Linked DNA regions of Homo sapiens: all the other regions are linked to region 5. The links come from fine-mapping of genetic effects on gene expression. A gene starts in region 5. Each other region holds a variant in brackets. All regions are shown on one strand. Distances are from middle to middle. Region 1 overlaps DPY19L1 (dpy-19 like C-mannosyltransferase 1). Region 2 has its middle 32 kb from the start of MIR548N. Region 3 overlaps DPY19L1 (dpy-19 like C-mannosyltransferase 1). Region 4 holds the start of LOC102724723 (a long non-coding RNA gene). Region 5 holds the start of DPY19L1 (dpy-19 like C-mannosyltransferase 1).

What was found. PIP is the estimated chance that this variant, and not a neighbour inherited with it, causes the effect.
Region 1: its variant is the best candidate, but not a certain one, in a credible set for the expression of DPY19L1 in whole blood (TOPMed, PIP 0.65).
Region 2: its variant is the best candidate, but not a certain one, in a credible set for the expression of DPY19L1 in visceral fat (GTEx, PIP 0.72).
Region 3: its variant is the best candidate, but not a certain one, in a credible set for the expression of DPY19L1 in subcutaneous fat (GTEx, PIP 0.53).
Region 4: its variant is the best candidate, but not a certain one, in a credible set for the expression of DPY19L1 in whole blood (TOPMed, PIP 0.83).

What each region holds. Positions count from the first base shown.
Region 1 is chr7:35,008,322-35,013,321 of GRCh38, reverse strand. It overlaps DPY19L1 (dpy-19 like C-mannosyltransferase 1), which reads left to right. Exons shown (of 22, transcript NM_001366673.1): 5 at 1,872-1,992; 6 at 2,761-2,854. Among named protein-coding and RNA genes, the nearest start is that of DPY19L1, 27 kb to the left of the region's middle. The variant T/C (reference allele first, on the strand shown) is at 3,075.
Region 2 is chr7:34,905,855-34,910,854 of GRCh38, reverse strand. No RefSeq gene overlaps it. Among named protein-coding and RNA genes, the nearest start is that of MIR548N, 32 kb to the left of the region's middle. The variant G/A (reference allele first, on the strand shown) is at 2,433.
Region 3 is chr7:34,998,775-35,003,774 of GRCh38, reverse strand. All of the region lies in intron 6 of DPY19L1 (dpy-19 like C-mannosyltransferase 1), which reads left to right. Among named protein-coding and RNA genes, the nearest start is that of DPY19L1, 36 kb to the left of the region's middle. RefSeq lists a silencer at 1-17. The variant A/G (reference allele first, on the strand shown) is at 2,157.
Region 4 is chr7:34,941,474-34,946,473 of GRCh38, reverse strand. It overlaps DPY19L1 (dpy-19 like C-mannosyltransferase 1), which reads left to right. Exons shown (of 22, transcript NM_001366673.1): 16 at 758-807; 17 at 3,835-3,859; 18 at 4,590-4,709. It overlaps LOC102724723 (a long non-coding RNA gene), which reads right to left and starts at 4,248. Exons shown (of 3, transcript XR_001745166.2): 1 at 4,168-4,248; 2 at 1,338-1,428. The variant G/A (reference allele first, on the strand shown) is at 2,701.
Region 5 is chr7:35,034,788-35,039,787 of GRCh38, reverse strand. It overlaps DPY19L1 (dpy-19 like C-mannosyltransferase 1), which reads left to right and starts at 2,303. Exons shown (of 22, transcript NM_001366673.1): 1 at 2,303-2,691. The coding sequence starts at 2,394. It overlaps LOC105375228 (a long non-coding RNA gene), which reads right to left and starts at 3,002. Exons shown (of 3, transcript XR_001745162.3): 1 at 2,867-3,002. RefSeq lists an enhancer at 1,464-1,693 and silencers at 1,744-2,413, 2,444-2,613.

The sequences.
Region 1 (5,000 bases), 26 kb after region 5:
GCTTACAGGGATTATACCAAGGGAGCGCTGTTACTTTTACATGTCATTTGTTAAATGTTTTCTTCCCTTTCCTCATTTAATTGAGTGCACTTTCTTGAGTGGGAGTGGAGGGAAGGTGAGCCCAATCCAGCAAGTGGAGATGACATTTGGCCTCTCCTTTATCCTCCTTGCAAAACTATAAATTTGTTGATGTGGAACTCTAGTTCAATAGAATATATATTTTAATGATTTTGTCAGAAGGCTTTCCAGATAGATATTGAACTATCCACCAGCAGTGTTTTTGAAACTACTTATTTACCTGCATCTTTGTTAATTGGATAGACAAATTGGTCACGTGATGTATTTCATTCATTGATTTTATATATATATATCAGTGTTCTCTATATATGTATATATAACACACATACATATATACATAATGCATTTTTACTTTTAAAAATAATTGCCAATTCATGCCTTTCATCTATATTTCTGTTAAAATTTTATAAGTTCATTTATTATATACTGGATATTAATATAATGCTATATAATGAAACATTTTCCCCAGTTGTTTGCCCTTTAGCTTTGTGTATGATGTCTATGTATTTTTTTCTATACAGAAATATATCTTTGAATCTTTTTTGTCTTTTATACATACATGTAAAAAACTTCATTTTTATAATCATAATTTTTTTTAATTTACATTTTTAATTTATCTGGAATTGGTTTTGATGCATAGTGTGGGGTAGGAATCTAACCTTGAATTGTTTTTTGAAAATGTATTGTGTGTAACCTAACACTGATGAGGTGTCCATCCTCTCTCCACTGATTTGAAGTAAGCTTTTTTCTTTATATGCAAAATTATTATACATACATGCTTGCACGTGTTTCTGGATTTTGTGCTCAGTATTGCCTTAGGTTGAGGTCCTGGAAAGTGGACTTTGAGATGGAGATTTGCATGCAGGAAGTAGTCGAGGGAGTGTCCTTAGGGCCAACACCTGAAGGGGGATGAATGAAGCAGAATGAGGTAGGAGGAAGAGGAGAGCTTTGATACAGTCACTGTGAAGGCCTCATCCAGTCCCTGGGCAGCTCTGGATCTGGGATGGCTTTGCAGAGTTGTCCTACCTTGTGAGAAGGGCCCCTGGCCTTGATGTCTTTCCCTATTGACTAGTCGGTCATCAGATGCAGATTGCCCGTGGGTAGGGGATGTCACCTTGAGTGAATTTACTTTCTTCAGCCATGGGCAGTTCCCATGGAGGGACACAGCTTCAAGCTTTCAGGCACCAGTCTTCTAACCAGCTGGAGGAATGAGTGCCTCAGCCCGGAAGAGGGAATCTGGGGTGGCTTGCCACCGCTTGTACCATGGTTATTGATCTGTCTAGCCATTCTTGTGCCAGTATCACACTATTTTAATTATTAAAAGTGGTAAGACTTAATATCTGTTAAAACATTCCCTTTAATTTTCTTGTTAGTTTTCTAGATACATTTTAGACACTTGGAATTTTGACTGGAATTATTTTATGTTTATGAATTAATTTGAGGGAGAATTCATATCTTAAATAATTCGGTCTATTCCAGTAGACCCAGTATCTTTTACTTGTGCAAATCTTCTTTTGTGTCTCTTAGTAGAGTTGTAGAGCTTTTGAAAAACATAAATTTAGCACTTTTTTTTGGCCCATATTTTGTCCTTACCCATGGATGAACAATTGAAAACTGACCAGTGAAGAATCTGCCTAGGAGATTCTGAGCCTTGTTTTACTACATTTAAAGGGAGCCAAGTGGATGGTATGGAAAGGGAAAATATGGTAATTGTCAAAGTATCTCAAAAGTATTCTAGTAATGAAAATTGTTTAGTATATTTTCTTAAGATGCCTCTGTATTTTTTAAAATAGGTAATTTTGGCCAGTTGGTACCGGATTTATACCAAAATAATGGACTTGATTGGTATTCAAACCAAGATATGTTGGACGGTTACCAGAGGAGAAGGACTCAGTCCTATTGAAAGCTGTGAAGGTAAGTTTCTTTCTGTAATATTGTCCAGTTATCTGTTGTAACATAATAAACTTATCTAGCATAATAAACTTACACTGTAAACTTAGTGGTATAAACAACACCCATTTTATTATGCATATATAGATTCTGCAAGTCCAGAATTTGGGCAGGCTTTAGCGGGGCTGGTTTATGTCCATGATTTCAGGGACCTCTGCTACTAAGACTCAAATGTCTGGGAAGGCTGGAATTAACTGAGAGGCTACATTGCTCACATTTTGGCTCCTGGGCATGGAGGACTGTGAGGCTGAGCTCAGCTGGAACTCTCAGCTGGGACACCTACATGTGGCCTTTCGGGGTGACTTGGGCTTTTTGAAAGCAAAGTACCTCAGAGTAGTAGTAAGGCTTTTCCTATGGCAGCTGAAGGCTCCAAGCTGGACACTGTATGACCTCTTATGACCTAGCCTCAGAAGTCACATAGTGTTGCTTCTGCCATACTCTGTTGAAAGAGTCACAAGCCCAATGAAACTCAAAAATGGGGGCTATAGACCCCATACCTCCAGAGGAGGCGTATCAGTGAATTTGCAGCCCTGTTTTAAAACCATCATTGCTAATTACCCTGGTCTCATCTATGTTCTGCAGTAGTGTTGTGTTTTCATGTGGGAACCAAGGCAGCTATTTAATATATCTGGCAACCATTTTCAAAATGAACACAATTTAATATAAATTGCTAGACACGTAAGGTAATTTGGGTTAATGTGATTAGAACATATGTTTTGTTTATTTTTAAAGGATTGGGAGATCCTGCTTGCTTTTATGTTGCTGTAATTTTTATTTTAAATGGACTAATGATGGCATTATTCTTCATATATGGCACATATTTAAGGTAAGAATATTTTAGTATGTGTTTATAAGATATACTAAAATAAAATAGTTGATTAGTTAATAGTTAATCATTGATTAATTTATAGTTCAGTTTTATGAAAATATCCTAAAATATCTTATTATCATAAAATTCATTATTTGCATGATTTCACCACTGCCATGGCCCATCACACTTAAGATAGTTTTAGAGATGTAAATAGAATTGGGAATACTTGATAAAT[T/C]TAATTACTTTTTTTTTTGAGACAGGGTCTCACTCTGTCACCCAGGCTGGAGTGCAGTAGTGTGATCTCTGCTCACTGCAACCTCCGCCTCCTGGGTTCAAGCGATCCTCCCACTTCAGCCTCCTGAGTAGCTGGGACTATAGGTGCACGCCACCAAACTCAGCTAATTTTTTTGTATTTTTTGTAGAGACAGGGTTTGCTATGTTGCCCAGACTAGTCTCAACTTCCTGGGCTTGAGTGATCTGCCCATCTCAGCTTCCAAAGTGCTGGGATTACAGGCATGAGCCACAGTGCCTGGCATAAATTTTGAATATTCATAGGCATTTGAACATAAGCAATATATATTCCATATATTGTTATGGAATATCTAATATATTGTTATGGAACAGTATATTCCATTTGCTGTATGTACGTGTATACGTGTGTGTGCTGAGATGTGTGAAGTCTTACTTCTTACTGTAGTTTTGGTGTAAAAAAAGTCTGTAGACTACTGCTTAAGGTAACATGAGGGAGCAGCTTTTACCTTAGAGCATTTGGGTCTTTCTAGATGGCTGTCTGTGGTTCTTCTTCCAATGTCAATGGCTGTAGATGGTTTCAGCTCCATCCAGTATATATTGTTTACATAAAATATAAGGGAAAAGACCACTCATTATCAAATGATATTAATAGCTCTTTATTAATGTTAAAGTAGAAGTATCTTCTATGTAATATTTAGAAGTGTCTTCTGTACAATATTTAGTATCTGACCTGATTTACTTTACAGTTGAGCAGCATTCCTAAAACTAAAAGACTAATTTTTTAAGGCTTTTTATGTTTACTTCTTTTTTGCCAATTTATTATTCTGTATATATGTTTGAAGTATTTTACCTTGAGATTATCTTTAGAATTTTCTTCCTTGCTGCTTATTGATTCTTTGTAGTACAGAATTATGAGAATTGTATATGATTTTCAATTTGGGATAATGAGTTTGAATTTGCTATTATCGCATTATCTCCTTTCCTTTGGAAGTGTGGCATTTTCAGTTTAGTACCTCAAAGATGTGTTGAGTTTCTAGCCCACCGTTTGAGTATCTAGCAGTTACTTGATAAGCATTTGTCAAAAGAGGAAGCTGTTAGAAGATCAATGTAAAATATATTTGCATATAGATTTAAGACACTTTGATGTTACTATTTCTGACTTAGGTCTAAGAAAATTCTTTTGTTTAATTGGGGAGACTAAAATAAAAATGCATGATTAAAAGATGATTGTGAAAGATTTTGTTTTTGAAACAAGATGCAGGGAAATAAGTTAAACCAAAAGAATATGGTAATGAGAAAAGGAGGCTGACTTGAGGGAAAGTGGGCCTGTGTGCTTGCATCGTAATGAGCCAGAGGGAGAGAAACTTGGTGGTGTCTATTCATTTTGCTGAGTACTGCCCATCTGTCTATGGGTAGCTTTATTACATTTGGGAGATTAGATTTTACATAAGAGAAGTTAAAATATGAAACATGGCATTACTGCTAAGCTGCTAATCTGCACTTATGCTACCCTTTTTTTAAAAAAATATGGGGTCTTGCTATATTGTTACCCAGGCTGGAGTCTAGTGACTATTCACAGATGTGGTCACAGAGCACTATAGCCTCAAACCACTGGCTTCAAGCAGTCCTCCTGCCTCAGCCTCCCAAGTAGCTGGAACTACAAGTGTGTGCCACCATGCCTGGCTACTTTTTTAATTGAAAGAAGAATTTGTAAACATCCGTTAAAGCATTCACATTTTCTTGTAATGCTTGTTATAACTGTTTTTTCAAAGGCAGAAGGCACAACATCTACTGAAGAGAATAAAAGTTCCTGGTTTTGGTTGAGGGGTTTTTGGTGGTTTTGGCCCTGACCTGACCTAACCCTGTGGTGCCTGGTAGACAGTTTTTTGTCTACATGGGAGATGCATAT
Region 2 (5,000 bases), 130 kb after region 5:
GTAGCCTTGTAGTATAGTTTGAAGTCAGGTAGTGTGATGCCTCCAGCTTTGTTCTTTTGGCTTAGGATTGACTTGGCGATGCGGGCTCTTTTTTGGTTCCATATGAACTTTAAAGTAGTTTTTTCCAATTCTGTGAAGAAAGGCATTGGTAGCTTGATGGGGATGGCATTGAATCTGTAAATTACCTTGGGCAGTATGGCCATTTTCATGATATTGATTCTTCCTACCCATGAGCATGGAATGTTCTTCCATTTCTTTGTATCCTCTTTTATTTCCTTGAGCAGTGGTTTGTAGTTCTTCTTGAAGAGGTCCTTCACATCCCTTGTAAGTTGGATTCCTAGGTATTTTATTCTCTTTGAAGCAATCGTGAATGGGAGTTCACTCATGATTTGGCTCTCTGTTTGTCTAGGAATGCTTGTGATTTTTGCACATTGATTTTGTATCCTGAGACTTTGCTGAAGTTGCTTATCAGCTTAAGGAGATTTTGGGCTGAGACAATGGGGTTTTCTAGATATACAGTCATGTCATCTGCAAACAGGGACAATTTGACTTCCTCTTTTCCTAATTGAATACTCTTTATTTCCTTCTCCTGCCTAATTGCCCTGGCCAGAACTTCCAACACTATGTTGAATAGGAGTGGTGAGAGAGGGCATCCCTGTCTTGTGCCAGTTTTCAAAGGGAATGCTTCCAGTTTTTGCCCATTCAGTATGATATTGGCTGTGGGTTTGTCATTGATAGCTCTTATTATTTTGAAATATGTCCCATCAATACCTAATTTATTGAGAGTTTTTAGCATGAAGGGTTGTTGAATTTTGTCAAAGGCCTTTTCTGCATCTATTGAGATAATCATGTGGTTTTTGTCTTTGGCTCTGTTTATATGCTGGATTATATTTATTGATTTGTGTATATTGACCCAGCCTTGCATCCCAGGGATGAAGCCCACTTGATCATGGTGGATAAGCTTTTTGATGTGCTGCTGGATTCGGTTTGCCAGTATTGTATTGAGGATTTTTGCATCAATGTTCATCAAGGATATTGGTCTAAAATTCTCTTTTTTGGTTGTGTCTCTGCCCGGCTTTGGTATCAGAATGATGCTGGCCTCATAAAATGAGTTAGGGAGGATTCCCTCTTTTTCTGTTGATTGGAATAGTTTCAGAAGGAATGGTACCAGTTCCTCCTTGTACCTCTGGTAGAATTCGGCTGTGAATCCATCTGGTCCTGGATTCTTTTTGGTTGGTAAGCTATTGATTATTGCCACAATTTCAGAGCCTGTTATTGGTCTATTCAGAGATTCAACTTCTTCCTGGTTTAGTCTTGGGAGAGTGTATGTGTCAAGGAATTTATCCATTTCTTCTAGATTTTCTAGTTTGTTTGTGTAGAGGTGTTTGTAGTATTCTCTGATGGTAGTTTGTATTTCTGTGGGATCGGTGGTGATATCCCCTTTATCATTTTTTATTGCATCTATTTGATTCTTCTCTCTTTTTTTCTTCATTAGTCTTGCTAGTGGTCTATCAATTTTGTTGATCCTTTTGAAAAACCAGCTCCTGGATTCATTAATTTTTTGAAGGGTTTTTTGTGTCTCTATCTCCTTTAGTTCTGCTCTGATTTTAGTTATTTCTTGCCTCTGCTAGCTTTTGAATGTGTTTGCTCTTTCTTTTCTAGTTCTTTTAATTGTGATGTTAGGGTGTCAATTTTGGATCTTTCCTGCTTTCTCTTGTGGGCATTTAGTGCTATAAATTTCCCTCTACACACTGCTTTGAATGCGTCCCAGAGATTCTGGTATGTTGTGTCTTTGTTCTCTTGGTTTCAAAGAACATCTTTGTTTCTGCCTTCATTTCATTATGTACCCAGTAGTCATTCAGGAGCAGGTTGTTCAGTTTCCATGTAGTTGAGCGGTTTTGAGTGAGATTCTTAATCCTGAGTTCTAGTTTGATTGCACTGTGGTCTGAGAGATAGTTTGTTATAATTTCTGTTCTTTTACATTTGCTGAGGAGAGCTTTACTTCCAAGTATGTGGTCAATTTTGGAATAGGTGTGGTGTGGTGCTGAAGAAAATGTATATTCTGTTGATTTGGGGTGGAGAGTTCTGTAGATGCCTATTAGGTCCACTTGGTGCAGAGCTGAGTTCAATTCCTGGGTATCCTTTTTGACTTTCTGTCTTGTTGATCTGTCTAATGTTGACAGTGGGGTGTTAAAGTCTCCCATTATTAATGTGTGGGAGTCTAAGTCTCTTTGTAGGTCACTCAGGACTTGCTTTATGAATCTGGGTGCTCCTGTATTGGGTGCATATATATTTAGGATAGTTAGCTCTTCTTGTTGAATTGATCCCTTTACCATTATGTAATGGCCTTCTTTGTCTCTTTTAATCTTTGTTGGTTTAAAGTCTGTTTTATCAGAGACTAGGATTGCAACCCCTGCCTTTTTTTGTTTTCC[G/A]TTTGCTTGGTAGATCTTCCTCCATCCTTTTGTTTTGAGCCTATATGTGTCTCTGCACGTGAGATGGGTTTCCTGAATACAGCACACTGATGGGTCTTGACTCTTTATCTAATTTGCCAGTCTGTGTCTTTTAATTGGAGCATTTAGTCCATTTACATTTAAAGTTAATAGTGTTATGTGTGAATTTGATCCTGTCATTATGATGTTAGCTGGTTATTTTGCTCGTTAGTTGATGCAGTTTCTTCCTAGTCTTGATGGTCGTTACATTTTGGCATGATTTTGCAGTGGCTGGTACCAGTTGTTCCTTTCCATGTTTAGCACTTCCTTCAGGAGCTCTTTTAGGGCAGGCCTGGTGGTGACAAAATCTCTCAGCATTTGCTTGTCTCTAAAGGATTTTATTTCTCCTTCACTTATGAAGCTTAGTTTGGCTGGATATGAAATTCTGGGTTGAAAATTCTTTTCTTTAAGAATGTTGAATATTGGCCCCCACTCTCTTCTGGCTTGTAGGGTTTCTGCCGAGAGATCCGCTGTTAGTCTGATGGGCTTCCCTTTGAGGGTAACCCGACCTTTCTCTCTGGCTGCCCTTAACATTTTTTCCTTCATTTCAACTTTGGTGAATCTGACAATTATGTGTCTTGGAGTTGCTCTTCTCGAGGAGTATCTTTGTGGCGTTCTCTGTATTTCCTGAATCTGAACGTTGGCCTGCCTTGCTAGATTGGGGAAGTTCTCCTGGATAATATCCTGCAGAGTGTTTTCCAACTTGGTTCCATTCTCCCCATCACTTTCAGGTACACCAATCAGACGTAGATTTGGTCTTTTCACATAGTCCCATATTTCTTGGAGGCTTTGCTCGTTTCTTTTTATTCTTTTTTCTCTAAAGTTTTCTTCTCGCTTCATTTCATTCATTTCATCTTCCATTGCTGATACCCTTTCTTCCAGTTGATCGCATCGGCTCCTGAGGCTTCTGCATTTTTCATGTAGTTCTCGAGCCTTGGTTTTCAGCTCCATCAGCTCCTTTAAGCACTTCTCTGTATTGGTTATTCTAGTTATACATTCTTCTAAATTTTTTTCAAAGTTTTCAACTTCTTTGCCTTTGGTTTGAATGTCCTCCCGTAGCTCAGAGTAATTTGATTGTCTGAAGCCTTCTTCTCTCAGCTCGTCAAAGTCGTTCTCCGTCCAGCTTTGTTCCGTTGCTGGTGAGGAGCTGCGTTCCTTTGGAGGAGGAGAGGCGCTCTGCTTTTTAGAGTTTCCAGTTTTTCTGTTCTGTTTTTTCCCCATCTTTGTGGTTTTATCTACTTTTGATCTTTGATGATGGTGATGTACAGATGGATTTTTGGTGTGGATGTCCTTTCTGTTTGTTAGTTTTCCTTCTAACAGACAGGACCCTCAGCTGCAGGTCTGTTGGAATACCCTGCCGTGTGAGGTGTCAGTGTGCCCCTGCTGGAGGGTGCCTCCCAGTTAGGCTGCTTGGGGGTCAGGGGTCAGGTACCCACTTGAGGAGGCAGTCTGCCGGTTCTCAGATCTCCAGCTGCGTACTGGGAGAACCACTGCTCTCTTCAAAGCCGTCAGACAGGGACATTTAAGTCTGCAGAGGTTACTGCTGTCTTTTTGTTTGTCTGTGCCCTGCCCCCAGAGGTGGAGACTACAGAGGCAAGCAGGCCTCCTTGAGCTGTGGTGGGCTCCACCCAGTTCGAGCTTCCCGGCTGCTTTGTTCACCTGAGCAAGCCTGTGCAATGTTGGGTGCCCCTCCCCCAGCCTCGCTGCCGCCTTGCAGTTTGATCTCAGACTGCTGTGCTAGCAATCAGCGAGACTCCGTGGGGTAGGACCCTCCGAGCCAGGTGCGGGATATAATCTGGTGGTACGCCGTTTTGTAAGCCCGTCGGAAAAGCGCAGTATTCGGGTGGGAGTGACCCGATTCTCCAGGTGCCGTCCTTCACCCGTTTCTTTGATTAGGAAAGGGAACTCCCTGACCCCTTGCGCTTCCTGAGTGAGGCGATGCCTCGCCCTGCTTAGGCTCGCGCACGGTGCGCGCACCCACTGACCTGCGCCCACTGTCTGGCACTCCCTAGTGAGATGAACCCGGTACCTCAGATGGAAATGCAGAAATCACCCGTCTTCTGCGTCGCTCAGGCTGGGAGCTGTAGACCAGAGCTGTTCCTATTCGGGCATCTTGGCTCCTCCCCGCTTTCAGAAGAATCTTATATACATGCAGGAGTGGTGAGGTATGTGTTGAATGAAACCCATGGTTAATTTTGTGTTGATTCTACTCATCTATTCCTGCATGCATCCTTCATTTACTCATGTATTCAATTACTTTTTATGGAATTCATACTATGTTCCAGGGACTTACAGGGTAGTTGAGAAGTAAATGTGAACAAAACAGACATAATTTATTTCTGCTCATAGCTTGACATTTAGTGGAAGATATGGAAAAAAATAAACAAGTCCACGAAATAATTGCAAACTTCCATAAGTGCTATGAAGGAAGCAGAGTGTTGAGACTTACAGAATTTAGACAAGGCAAGGTTCTTCTCTGCTTTAAACCTCCCAGAGCTCCCCATGGGCTGG
Region 3 (5,000 bases), 36 kb after region 5:
CTGTCAGGCAAAGCCTTGCATATGGCCAGGCCTGAGAAATCCCATATAGGTTTTCAACCAGGAGCCTGATTCCTCAGGACATCAGTAGGCAACGTCATGAGCCTGGGATAAATGTAGGACTCAGTCGGTAGGGACATCTGGCAGAAATGTAGTGGCCAGGTACTGAATATCCAGCAGAAATATCATGAGGGGAAGAGCTGTTCCCTCTTTCTAAATTCACCACTGTTTACCCTGGCTCTCTGGAGCATATCAAAGCAGAACAACTTCTGTGAGTGATATAAGTGTCTTTAACTGATGCCAGCAGTAAAGTATGTGGAGCCAAGATAAAATACAGACAAGAATCTGGTCCAGGCTCATCCAGGCTCACACAAATAAAATGTGGAGATTTTGGGCATGAGTCAGTACTTGGTTCTGGACTGGCTACCTTCCATGGTTTGTGTACATCTGTCCTTTTGGCATCCCATTGGGATTTCCTTGACTGCTCTCCCCTGTTGGATCCCCTGTGCCCTTATCCTGTTTGTTCCTCTTTCTTGGTTTATTTTCCCTCTTTGGTAGACCTCATCTTCTAGTAGGTAGGTCTTGAGAGTAGATAGCTGGGAAGTAAACATTTTATGAAACTTTGCAAAATGTGTTTATTTGCTTTCGTATTTGGTTCACTGTTTGGCCGAGTGTTGAACTCTAGACTTGAAAACATTGTTGGTTGCTGGCCGGGCACGGTGGCTCACGCCTGTAATCCCAGCATTTTGGGAGGCCGAGGTGGGTGGATCACAAGGTCAGGAGATCGAGACCATCTTGACTAACACAGTGAAACCCCGTCTCTACTAAAAAATACAAAAAAATTAGCCAAGCGTGGTGGCGGGCACCTGTAGTCCCAGCTACTCAGTAAGCTGAGGCAGGAGAATGGCGTGAACCCAGGAGGCAGAGCTTGCAGTGAGCCAAGATTGTGCCACTGCACTCCAGCCTGGGCGACAGAGCAAGACTCCGTCTCAAAAGAAGAAAAGAGAACATTGTTGGTTGCTTCAGATGATGCTATTCAGATGTTCCTAAGTTATTCAAATTTCTAAACCTTTGTATGTGACCTTTGCTTCCCCTTCCTCTCTCTGGAAGATTGTAGAATATCTTCTTTGTCTCTATGGTTCTGAAATTTCAGAGCAATATGTCTCAGTGTAGATCTGCTTTCATGTGTTCTCTTGGACACTTGATGGGTTGTTTCAATCATGCCTTTGATTTCTGAGAATTTTCTTGAATTATTTCTTTACTTATTTTATTCCCTTTGTTTTCTGATTCAGAACTTTTGTTTGGATGTTTGTAGTTTCCAGTCCTCTAATTTTCTTTTTTTTCCCCCCATTTTTAAGCTCTTTGGCTTTGTTCTACATTCTAGAACATTTTATCAGCCTTATTTTTTCCAACCTTCTACTGAGTTTTTATTTTTCATTATCATGCTTTTAATTTCCAAGAAGTTTTGTTTGTTCTATAAACATTCCTTTTTAAAAAATAGTATTTTATTTTTGTTTCTTGGATTCAATAAATATTCTCTCTAAGGGTATTAATGATGTTTTTACCCTCCCAGAATAACCTTGGCATCTTCTAGCTTGTGTGTGTGGGTTTTTTTTGTTGTTGTTTTTTGTTTTGTTTTTTTTTTTTTTTTTGAGCTGGAGTCTCGCTCTGTTACCAGGCTGGAGTGCAATGGCACGATCTTGACTCACTGCAACCTTGGCCTCCTGGGTTCAAGCAATTTTTTCTTGCTTCAGCTTTCCAAGTAGCTGGGACTACAGGCACGCACCACCACACCCAGCCAATTTTTGTATTTTTTAGTTGAGAGGGGTTTTTACCATGTTGGCCAGGATTGTCTCAATCTCTTGACCTGGTGATCCGCCCGCCTCAGCCTCCCAAAGTGCTGGGATTACAGGTATGAGCCACTGTGCCCGGCCTAGCTTGTTTTTTTAAACATCCTTTGGTCTCTACCTTCCATGTTAGGTGCCTTCCTTAGATGTCTGGCAAACTTAGGCTGTCATGATTAAGGCTAGAAGACCAAAAAAAGCTGTATAGAAGCTCTAAATTGTGGGTGGAATCTGTTAAGGTTGAGTTTTTATATAGTTTGAATAAATGATGTGAGCAGAACTTAGAGTGACTGCCAGTTCTTTGGTTTGCCTTTA[A/G]ATGTAAAAGAAAATATAAAGTAACAGAGGTCTTTTAGGGTTGTAAAAGGGAGGTGCAGTGTTTTATTAGGTTAACTGAAATGGAAGATTATAGATGATTTTTAAAGAAGTGATTGAGTAGAGGGAAGAACACCTAAATGAGTTTAAGAGACTCTGTCTTCTATGTGAGAATGGAATAAGGTAGTGTTTGCAAGTGACCCAGAAGAATGCTTGCCTTCCAAAATATTTTTTGATTGAATAAATTAATTAATAATAAAATATTGAAAGAAAAACTTAGCTTATGGTTGCCATATATGAAAGGCACAATAAAAACATATTATCTATCACATAAGCTTTACTAGCGTTTACCAATTTAGGAAGTATTTTTCCAATGGACTCATTCTGAAGCTTTCCTTCTGCAGATTCCAATCTTCACTGAAGACTGTTTTTGATTGCAGAAGTTCAGTTCATGTATGACGCTTATGTGCGAGGCTCTAAACTCTTTACTATCAGAAACTCATTTAATCCATATGGTTTTCCCATGAGATAGGTAAACCGCTTTATAGATGAGGAAACTGAGACACAAGGATATTAAATAACTTTTCCGAGGTCACAGAGCTAGTCACTGGCAGAGTAGGGATTTGAGTACCAACAGTGGCTCCAAAACGTGTGCTCTACTGTCTCTGAGAATACATTTTAAGTGTTCTTTCCACAGCAATTAAATTGTCTGCAGCTTTAGTTAATTTTTGTTTAAAGATCCTGCATAATGAAGAAAAAAGTGTTTATTTCATTGCCAAAGTAAGTGGTATTTATATTTCATAAAAAGTTTTACTTAAAATGTTTTAAAGATACATGACACTAAGAAGGATCTAGACTTTCCGTTCTCTTTTCTGTTCTGATGTTCCAGAATATTACTGTTCTGTAATAATTCATTTCCGAAGGATTCTGAGGTCCCAGGATTTTGCTGTTCTTCAGCTGATATTTCTGTATGCATTGTTTTGGTTTGATAGGTGGAAGTTTACTCTTTCTAATATTGCCATTTTTCAGGATCCTATTGTGCTCCATTTTTAGCTGTCATACATGTAATTTTATAATTATTCTAATAGTTTCCTCAGTTAATTTTACTTAGACTCATTTATTGAACTAACGACACATTGGAGGGAAAGGTAACATACTGCATGTTGGGGGGCGGATTCTTAAATGTCTGCTTTTGTGATTACACATTTCCCCGACTCCTCATTCTCCAGGTAAGATGACTGTAACTCCATACCTTCGCATGATCTGGTAGTTTGTAGTTGGTAATTTCAGTATGGAAAGTTTTTCTTTTTTTTGGAAGGTTTTTCTTTAATGGTTTTCAAGCCAAGGTTAAAATATACTGTATTATTTCTTTTGGTGGTGAATACGAACAGCTATTTTAATGTTATCTGGAACATTTTTATGATTTGTTCCTTAGAAGTATTTTTTGGCAAAGATCAAGAGGTCTCCATGTAAGTTAATTGAACAACTTTCTTTCTATTAATGTGCTCTACAATGGGTATGTTAGTTATTAGTATGTTTTTAAACTGAATTTTCACTGCTTTGTATATACATGCATATCTTTTGGCATTATTCAACTTTTTATAATCAAGTACGTCAGTGGTCCCTTGCCCCATCTGTCTTCCCCACCCTGTGTATCCCTTTGTCTAGGGAAAGCCACTTTCAGATCTTTGGAAACTCAGCAATTCTGATACGTAAAACCATAGTCCGCAGTTACATTATTATGACTGTAAAAATATTGCTTACTGCTGAATTAAGTGGTATAAATAATTGTTTATTTGGTAACTTAAAATTTTTCCTGTGGTTAATTATTGCTAATATTTTGTTTTCCTTGGTGTTCTGTATGCTGATTAATTCCTCTCCAGATCTACAGCTGAACTGTAAACACTTATTTTGTACTTTGTCAAATGTATAAAATCCATTATTTCAATTCTCCCACTCCTATCCCCTGGGGCCTCCCTCCTGGAGCCTCTGTCTCTGGTTCCATCCTAGACCCGTCCTTCCCTGGGCTTCCGTTTAGCGATTCCCTTGGAGTTTTGTTTACCACCATCCTGAGAATTCCCCTTTCCTCTCTTGCATTGGATTCATTGTGTTTTGGACCCCAGGTTGGTCTCTTTCTGGTCTGTTTCATCCTTTTGAGGATCATATCCTCAGGTAATTTCCAAGAGAGTCACAGAGATAATTTTAAAATACATTTGTCTGACATGTTTGAACATTTCCTTTTTTATTTTTGTACTCAATTACTGGTTTGCCTGGTTGTTGATTTTTATTTTTCCTCAGACTTTTAAAGGCTTTGTTCGACTGTATTCTAAGATGGAGTGTAGCTTTTCAAAAGTCTGGTGCTATTCTACCATTAGTTCCTTTTGTGTGTGGCTAGTTGTTTTCCTCTGGCACCTTTTGGGTTCATCTTTCTCTCTTTAGTCCCGTAAAAGGTCATGATGTGGTAGATATTATTTCATCCTTCTCATCGCATACTTTGTGCGCTCTATCTGGGCACTTACTTTCTTCACTTTGGAGGAAAACTTTTTTTAGTATTATTTCCCTAATGACATTCTCTTCTCCATTTCTTTTTTCCTGTTTTCTTGAAAGTTAGTGATTGGATATTGGACTTCTTGAAGTCGAATTTTCTCAGGGTTTTTCTCCCTTATTTTATTTTTACATTTTATTGTCATTTCTGTTAGATTTCCAACTTAAAGAATCTTGAGTTTGAAAATTTCTCTGCCTGTTGCATTGTCTTTGTTACCTCTAGGTCCCCCTTCAATTTGTATTAGTTTCTATTTTTCACATTGGAAGCTTCCATCCCCACAGCCTGCTGATTCCTAGCTTGAC
Region 4 (5,000 bases), 93 kb after region 5:
TTTCGTTTAAAGAAGAAAAGATGTAGATGGAAAGCGGATAATTACTTTGAAATATGGTAAAAGCCTGTGCCTTGAAAATAAGGTTACACACAATCTGGCTCCTTAGAATCATGGCCAATTCCAGGAGGTATGACTTTTGACCAGAACTGATCTCGACTGATAAGGAAAGTGTTATAGATTCAAGCAGCAGCTGGTGGATTCTAAGGGCTGGATTACAGCCTGTCATCAGTGTTGTAGAGAATATTTGTACTGGAGATACGATTTTAGATTAGATGACCTCCTCATTATTGCTGAATATGAAAGCACAGTGACTGTGTTTTGAATGCTTCCAGCTGTGATTATCAACCTCTGAGCCAGCTCTCCAGTTTTCTGAGTGCACTGTTAAGAAGAGGTGTTGCCAACAACGTTGGCATGGTGGAAGCAGCGCTGAATGTGAATTTGAAGCCAGAAGATCTGGTTTCAAGACTGCAGTGCTTCTTAGTAGTTGTCTACCTACAGGGCAATCATTTAATCCATATGAACCTGTTGCTCATTTACAAAACGAGGATGATATAATCTACCCAACAGGGTTGTTGAATATTAGCTTTGATCAGATACTATACAAATATAAGATTATGTTGTTGTGATTATTATTTTCTGAGTTATCTCTATACTTATATTTTCATTAAAAGTTATTTTACAGTTTAGAAGATACTTTATTTAAAATATCATTTTTCCCAACACAGCTTTTCTAAAGTGTTTCAAAATCTATTTACAGATTATTAGTGATATGTGGGGTGTCTTAGCTAAACAACAGACACATGTAAGGTAAATATGCTATTAAGAATTTTATTACCTCCTCTGTTCATTTATTAAATAGATATTTACAGTGTATTAATTGTATACTTACATGTTGTGTACCTAATATTTGATAATTGATGTTTTTATTGTGGTCATTTCCCTTCCTGGCATTTCTTCTTATTTCCTATCTGTGCAGAACACAGCACATCACTTATTCATCCTTCAGATGTTATCCAGTACAGTCTGACAGTAGCCCTGCACATAATCTACACTCAAAGGACACAGTTTTGTACTTCATTTCAGCAGGGAAAGTAAATTATTACGTGAGTGGTTTTAGGACCAGTGGACTGCCTTTTTGGAAATGAGCAGGGAAATATAAAACTGGATTCATACCTCACTTTTTACAGAAAATAAATTTCAGATGAACCAGAGAATTATGTATAGGAAAAAAAAAACCCAAAATTAACCAAGAGGGTTTGTTTATAACCTGAGAGTTAGAGAGGCCTATAGCATGCTTGGTATTTTCCACCATCACACCCTTTGTCTTACTCTCTTACCATTTGTCACCCTTTGTACTTAAATGTTGATGTGTGACCCGTATCTCCTGAAGGGAGCGATCATTTTTGTTCAACAGTTTATATACAGTGCCTGCAAGATAGTAAAGGATAGTAGTTGAATGAGTATTTACATATGACTAATGAACATGAAAAGGTAGTCTTGATCCTATGGTAAAGCCATTCAGGTTAAAGTGAAGACCTTTTCACTTCTTATATTTCTAAAAATTAATAGTATATCCAATGCTTGCAAGAGTGGGAGGTAGTAGATGGGAGGGAAGTTTGGCAATACACAGTAAAACATATAGTGGGCCTGTCCTTTAGCCCTGCAGGTTCCACCAGTGCAAGTGTACCCTCTAGAGATGCTCACAGAAATACAGAGATGATGGGGAGAGATGCCTTTTGTAGTATTGTGTGTTATGTGAGAAATGGAAACATCCAAAATATCTACTATGATACATAGAGTGGAATGTTAGGCTATCTTTCTGGAAATAGGTCCAGTATACATTATTGAATTTTTAAAATTGCCAGTGTGTGTGTGTATAGGATAATTATACTTCTCTTTAAAATTTAGAGATTTTTATGTGTTTGTGCATAGAAATGATCCGGAAAGATAAATCCTGTAATTATTAAGAGTGGGATTAGAGGATGGAGTGAAGGTAGTTTTAACTCTACTTTTATTCTTTTGTGGGATTTTGGGGGGAGAAGGATTGTCGAATGTGTATGTATCTATATTTTCTTTTTTTTAATTTTTCTTTTTTTTTTTTTTTTTTTGAGACAGAGCCTCACTCTGTCACCCAGGCTGGAGGAGTGCAGTGGCACGATCTCGGCTCACTGCAACCTCCGCCTCCCGGGTTCAGGCGATTCGTCTGCCTCAGCCTCCTGAATAGCTAAGACTACAGGCGACCACCACCACGCCCAGCTAATTTTTGTATTTTTAGTAGAGACGGGGTTTCACCATATTGGCCAGGCTGGTCTTGAACTCATGAACTCGTGATCTGCCTGCCTTAGCCTCCCAAAGTGCTGGGATTATAGGCATGAGCCACTGCGCCTGGCCCTATATTTTATTTTATAATTTGAATATACACACCCTTGTATTATTCCCTCACCTCCAAGTCTCTGCCAACATAATGATAAATTATTGCACATACTCCTGAGAGAATCCTTGTTCTCATTTAGAAACAATTTACTGTAACATATACAGGTATATGTTTATACCTGTAACATTTGAGTTGAGGGCTAAGGGGGAAAGAAAAACGTTCTGGTTTACAATGCCGAAATTTTTCATTTGAGGTGAAATTATTTTTGAAGAGCTCAGGAAGAAGCTACAAAGTTTCAGCTGTAGTATGCAACTCTGGAAGAGGAA[G/A]GTGGAACTTCTCACAGAAACAAAGCTGTCCCTTCAAGAGTAATAACTCACCTATAGAAGTAATTATAGGAAACCATTGAGCTTCATGGAGTTGTCAGTTCAAATAGGATCAGAGCTCTTTTTTGGAAGAGGAGTGGCATGTTGACATTTTATTTTGCATAGCTACCAAAGCCAGTGTAAAAAGGAGAAGAGTAGGACATAAATTTTAACTATCAAAGACATGAATGCCAATATTCTCTTTACTCAAAGACCCAGGAAGTAAAGTGGGATAGAGACAGCATGATGTAGTAAAAAGTATATTGGCTCTGAAGTCAGTCAGAATATAGTCCTGGCTGCCACTTACTAGCTCTGTGATTCCTTTCCTTGGCTGTAAATTGGGGTAATAAATGGTTGTAGGATTAGAGTTAATGGAATGTACTAAGCATATTAACATTGTAAGTACTCAACAAATGGTAACTGATAGTTTTTACTTGGTGTGAAAGAAGAATAAAGAACTGTTTCATCTCCTTCACTAGCCCCTTATGTGTCCTGAGTTTGCTAATATATCAGTCTTTTTGAGGCTAGATTCTCAAATTAGATTATATGCTACCTGGATTAACAGTTTATTGATACACTTGTTCATTCATTAAAAATGTTGAGCTCTAAGTGTCAGGTATTACTCTAGGTCTTGGGAACATATCAGTGCTTAAGAAAGAGAAGGTGTGTGTTGTCAACTCACACATTTCTGTCTCTGACCCAGACTTCTCCCTTGAACTCAGATTTACACATATAACCACGTATTTGTTATCTCTACTTGGTTGCCTAGTGAAAATCTCAAAGGTTTTTTTCATTCCATGCTTTGCTGGGGTATCACCAGTGAGGGAGCTGGGACACCACCGTGTGCCTTTGTTGTCCTAATAAATACCCATGTAGTCAAATAGGATATAATACAACATTGTCATTCTTCATAAATTTTCTTAAAATAGTATAGCACCAGTTTTGGCATGTGACTTTTAGTTATTTTGATTTGCCTGTGTGTGTCCTGAGAGAATGTTATAGAAGTTGTAAAACTCCTGTTTGCAAGATGAAAATGCAAATATATGACGTAAGTGCTTCAATAATGAATTGATGGCAATATATTTTTTTCTGTTCCAGAAAACACCAGTTTGATCATGGAGAGGTAAAGACTTAATATGACTATAATTTTACTTATCTTAAAGTTGCATGCATTTGGACTTTCCTTTCTAGTTCCAGTTTCTAACTTTGTTGGCAATTGTCAGCAATCATCTTGAAAATAGCCTGTTATGTGTTTTTATGAGAATGCTATATGCAGATTCACTGACTATTCATTTGTTAAAATTAACTAGGAAACTCATATGTTCTGCTCTGATCATCTTTACACTAATGGCAGTTGATTTCTGGAGCCCATTTAGACATATGTATGAGGTGTCTATTGCATGATTGGAAATCACTTTCCTCTCTGCTCACCTTGCTTGAGGCCTCAGAGATGTGATTGGTTACTGCTCCCATCTCCTAGTTGTCCAGTCTGGTTTTGAGGGCAGTTCCAAGGTGGAGCCCTCAGATCTTGAGGCAGCAGTCATTTCTTTTACCACTGTCTTTTCTTGGTCTGATGGTAGCATCAAGGTTGATTAAAAAATGTGGGCTTTATTAACCACAGGTTTGACTCTGAGAATCACAGAAACACTTGCCTTAATGACTTTATAATTTTAGCCTTCCACTAAAATGGAACAGTTTGAAAGTGAATTTTAAGAATTGTTTTCGAAGTTTCAGAAACCTTAGTAGTATTTTTTGTTACTAAGGAGAACGTACCCCTTTCTGCATATTGCCAGTTTAGTATTCTTAAACTTCACAAACAGTAGGAGTAAAAAACATTTTCTTCTTTCTTTCAGCTGGTTTACCATGCATTGCAATTGTTAGCATATACAGCCCTTGGTATTTTAATTATGAGACTAAAACTCTTCTTGACACCACACATGTGTGTTATGGCATCACTGATCTGCTCAAGACAGGTAACATGTTATGTTGGAGTATAGCTACTATGATAATTTTAGCCTTTATTATTGAGTGGCCCTAAAATAATGAATTACAAAGTCTTTTAAGTGATTATAGTTAAAGCTCTTCATGGTTTTGTACTTATCTTTCTTAAAGGGTAAGGGCCAAAGCTGATCATTTTCTATCTTTCTAAAGATTTAAAATAGTTGTTGGTGTACAACTAATACCGATTTAGTACAGACTGAGTTCATGAGTGATTACTGCAGGTGCTGATAGAAAGCAGAGCTTAATTGTACAAATAATAACTT
Region 5 (5,000 bases):
CCTGTGAACTAGATGTTTTTGTTGCCTCCATTTTAAGAATGAAGAAATCCAGACTCAAAGAGGTATAATACCTTGGTCAAGGCTGGTATGGGTCAATGTAGTGGCTGCAAACTGGATCTAAATTGACCGTGTTTAAGAAAAAAACAAACAAAACAAAAAAACCAAAAAACTAATACCTCACACTGCCCCTCTCCGCATGGTTGCCAAGCCGAGAAGGGGAACTGACAAGCACTTGTGGAACTGCATTCATTCACTCACTCATTCAACAAGTGTTTTCCTGGTACAAACGGTACCAGCTTAAGGGAGGCAGTTCCTGAATTCAGGGCCTATCACATAAAGTAGACACACAGCAATCTAATAATTCAAATGTTGAACCTCTTTTTCCATGCGTCTTTCTAATCATTAAAAAAAATCCATCATTTGTATTATTTTTATTTATTTATTTTTTTGAGATGGAGTCTCGCTCTGTCGCCCAGGCTGGAGTGCAGTGGCGTATCTCAGCTCACTGCAACCTCCGCCTCCCGGGTTCAGGCGATTCTTCTGCCTCAGCCTCCCAAGTAGCTGGGACTACAGGCGCCTGCTACCACGCCTGGCTAATTTTTGTATTTTTATTAGAAACAGAGGTTCACCATCTTGGCCAGGCTGGTCTTGAACTCTTGGCCTCGTGATCTGCCCGCCTCGGCCTCCCAGAGTGTTGGGATTACAGGCGTGAGCCACGGTGCCCGGCCAGTTATTCGTATTATCTTTAATAGGCATTGAATTAGCTTTCTTTTAACTGAATACATTCAACATTAATCCCAGAGGTAGCATTGAGTTCAGCTGACACAATGTTTCAGAATCCAAGCCTTCTGCATCCTACTTTCAACCATTATTTTTTAAACCAGTGTATAAAAATAGTTGTTCTTTGCTCCAATAAAGACATTGGAAAATCCAAATTCATAAACTAGACAGGGTATGAGGGAGTATTAATTAGCATGGCAAACACCCTCCCTTTACAAAATAATCCACTGTCTCTTAAAAAGGCTAACAATGAACGAATGCTGGTATTAGTAAAGAAATCACTGGGCAAAGAAACAAAGAGCGAGAAAGCCACGTGAAGTCCCTGGAATTACAATAGAGATAAGCAGAACGATGGGCCTTGATTTACAACATTGGGACTTAAAGACAACTTTTTGGAACAAGCCACTGGGCACGGCCAGGAAAGGAACCTCCCAGTTGTAATCCATGCTGTTGTAAGACTGTGTGCAAAGAATGCAGGGGTGGAGGGAGAATTGGGATCTACCTGGGTTTCTAAATTTTCCCGGGTTTAATTTACTCGTGCATTCTGCTATGTAAAAGAAAACATATTTTCGACTAAAATCTCCTATCTTATCAACGCCAAGTTTTCCTGCTTCCTATTAAGCAACAAGGTTACAGCAAGTGTAACAAACTGAATGTACTTATTGATGATCTTTCCTGCTCCAGCCAATCCATCCTATCACCTTCAGCCTGGCTCCTACCCTGGTCTTCAGTTTACACTTGTGCCTCGTCCCTTATCAGCTCCCCATGAGATTCCAGGCTGCTATTTTAATACTCTGTTACTATCTTAAATCGGGTCGCACCCGTTCTTCTTGTCGGTGAGTGAGGGGCTGCGCTCCAAGTTGCGCGACCACACTGCGGGGAGTAAACGGAGACGGTGACTTGATTGCCACCCGCGCGCTTCACATCGGTGGGGCCGACCAGGCGCCCAGGGCGCACGCACAGCGCCCCTAAGTGGCCGCTCCGGGCGCCTTCTCCCTGCCCCGCCGCGTCTCGCCTGCGCGGGCTCCAAGCGCAGCCTTAACAGGCTCCGAAACTTGAATCAGCGCCCCGATCCCGAGAGGGCTCTTCCTTCGGCCCCATCACTCCCACAATGGAAGGGCGGCCGCCTCCGGAAGGCCGTCCGCCCCCGCGTCCTCGCACCGGCCGAGCCCCGCGCGGGCGCCGAAGAGGTGTGGGTAGCCGGGCGCCAGAGGGGTCGGGCCCCGCCTGCGCCGGAAGTCCGCGCGTGCGCGCTGGCCGGCCTGGAGCGCGCGTCCGGCGCAGAGGGGCGGCGGGGGCGGGGCCGCGGCCGCTCGCAGGGTGTCCCCGCCCCCGCCCCCCGGCGTTCCGCGGTCGCCGTGACAACCGGAGCGGCGGCAACGGCGGCGGGCTAGCAAGTCCGGCGCCGCCTCCCGGCGGTACTGCCAGCCAGGCAGCAGCCGCCCGGCCTCCACGATCTCCCCGCCTCCCGGCCCGCGGGGAGGGACGAGCCCGCCCTCCACCCTCCGCCCGCCCGCCCGCTGGAGAGTGAGCTGCGCCCAGCCGCCCAGCCAGCCCGCCGTTCTCTGGCCGCCGTCCGGGCGCGCGCAGCGAGCGGGCGCGACTATGCCAAGATGGTCCTGCAGGCGCGGAACAAGCACCGGGAGGCGGCTCCCAAGCCGCCCCAGCCACCCCGCGCCTCACAGTCGCCGCTGAGGGGGGCGTCGGACGTCGGCGCCGGGGAGCCGGGGCCCGAGCGCGCGCCCCTGTCCCCGGGGCGCAAGGGCGCCGCGGGCAGGAAGGGGCCCCGCGCCGAGCCCGGCGCGCCGCCCGCCGGGGGCGGCCTTGGGGGGCGCCTGGCCGCCCGGCTGCGCTGGGCGCTGGGCCTGCGGCGCGCGGGGCGCGGCCGGACCTGGACCACGCTCCTGTTAGGTGAGCAGCCCTAGCGCCGGCGCCGCCGGGACGCGGAACTTTGAGGCGCTGGCCCCCTCCCCTCCCCTCCCCTCCCCTTCCTTCCCCTCTCCTCCCGCTTCCGCCGCGCCGAGCCCCGCCAGCCGGACCAGCCAGTTTGCAGCCCTCTCCGACTTTTTCTCTGGGACATTCTTACCTTCTCCTCCCCGCAACTCCCTGGCTCAGCTCTCCTCGCACGCTTCCCACCCGCGCTCTGCCTGGGCTTTAAAAGAATGGCCCGGGGATCAACAGCTGCCCGGCCTGGCCGCGGGCAGCAGGTCTGCGCTAACGAGACTTGAGCGCTGCTGATTGGTACGACTGGCCGCCTTCCCGTTATCTCGGCCTCTGACCGCCAGGATGGTTTGCTTTGGCTTGGAAACGATTCCGTGGAGCTCAAAGCAAACGCACGTTCCATGTCGTAGAGAGTTGCTTAAACTTATAATTAAATTTTAGCGTACTTTTTTCTTCCTGGCCGCAAACGCCGCTGGTGGCACTTTATTTGTGATTCCCCTCGACACGTCACTTTCTAGGTTGTGTTGTGTTTGGGGCGCCCGAGCCTTAATCCTCCCTGCTGCCCTTGGAACCTTTGGTGAGGAGGGCTCTCCTCCCCTCCCTCTGCCATTTACCAAATGGATGATGTGTAATGATGTGCTGAAAAAAAAAAACAAAGTTGACGCATTCGTATGTTTCGGACTGACTTCAGGTTTCCTCTGTTTCCTGGTTGAATTTTGATAAGGCAAGTTGTAGCAGTTTGGATAACAGGCCTAATTTTTCTAAGTCAACTAGTGAAATGCTGTTACATTGCTTTTTTCTATATGCCTCAGTGGGCTTTTCGCTACTGAACTATTTAATTACTGTTGATTTATCCCTTAGTATATTTTCAGATTCCCTTGGTGACTCAAAGTTCCCTTAGCCAGGAGTTGGGGTCCAGTATAAGTCAAGGAATAGGACACAGCAAATTGGCTTCCCCTGAGATCACAGCCACAAATAAAAGCCACTCAGTCATAAAAAGCCAGTCATCTCTGTATGTTTTAATGGGCTCAAGAAGGTTGTTCCTAGGGTACTTTTTTTCCCCCCATTGCCGATTCAAGCCTAGAAAAACCAAGTTTGTTTTTCTTTGTTTGTTTGTTTGTCTGTTTCCAGCACATTTCCCCCCGCCCCCTTTTTTTTTATCTCAGTAGCAAGCTTGAAAAGCTGGCTAGTATGCAGGTTAGAAAAGCTCACCTTGGGGAGGCAGCACGATACAGTGGATGAGGCAGAGCCTTCAGATCTAGTACACAGCGGTTCAGTTTGGTTTAAGTTTCAGGTTCCTTTGTGAGTCTTTCGTTCTCTGCTAGTGGGGGGTTATCACATGGCGAATTTACTCCACAGGGATCCACAGGATCTGTTAAGGATCATAACTAAAAGGTGTGGGTGATACATGGGAAGATACTTTGTGTTTAGAGCACTTGACACATTGTAGTTGTTGTAATAAAAGAAAGTGTGTGATGCTGATTTGAGATCTGATGACAGAATGGAGTTGCATTTTTATTGAATGACTAAACATTAACCACTTTGTAGTAAAATATAGAATGGCATTGCTTCTTCAGGGATGTTACAATAACAAATCTTAGAATAATGATATTTATTGCTATTTTCTGCATATTTTCTTTTTTGATTGCGTTTCCTTTGAATCTTCTTTGGATGGATGCATGACTTATATTTGGATGACTTACCTTTGGATTTAGTAATTCCCATACCTAAATACAGTTTTGTATTAATGTAACAGTATAGCACGTTGCTTGACTTGCCCCTTTGAGCATTGAAAGGAGGTACAGTGAATGTGGTAGATTGTATTTTTGGGTGTACCCTGGACCATGGCCATCAGATATATGGAAGTTGGATGAACAGACCCAGGTCTAGAGACTTTCTGTCCTTGTTAACCCTCTGCATGAGGCCCCAGGGCACCTTGAGAGATGATTCTGCTGAATGATTGGACCTGGGTTGCTTCTTTCTCTGGCTCTGTACCGTCATAAACTGATGTCAGACCTATTTCTTCCCCACGATTATGCCCTGCCACAGCGTCAAAAAACCACTCAGATCCTGCAGAGAGGAGCAGAGTTTAGACATTTTTGAAAGCTGCCTTATTTCCTGTTTTCTTCCCCCCTCCCAGAATGAGTGAGAGTTGAGCTGACATTATACAGTATTTCAATGTGGGACTTTAAAATAGCTGTTTGGTTTTCCACATTGCATTGCATATTCTTTTGTTCATCAAGAGTTCATTTGTAACTGATCAAAAAAAGAACAATTAT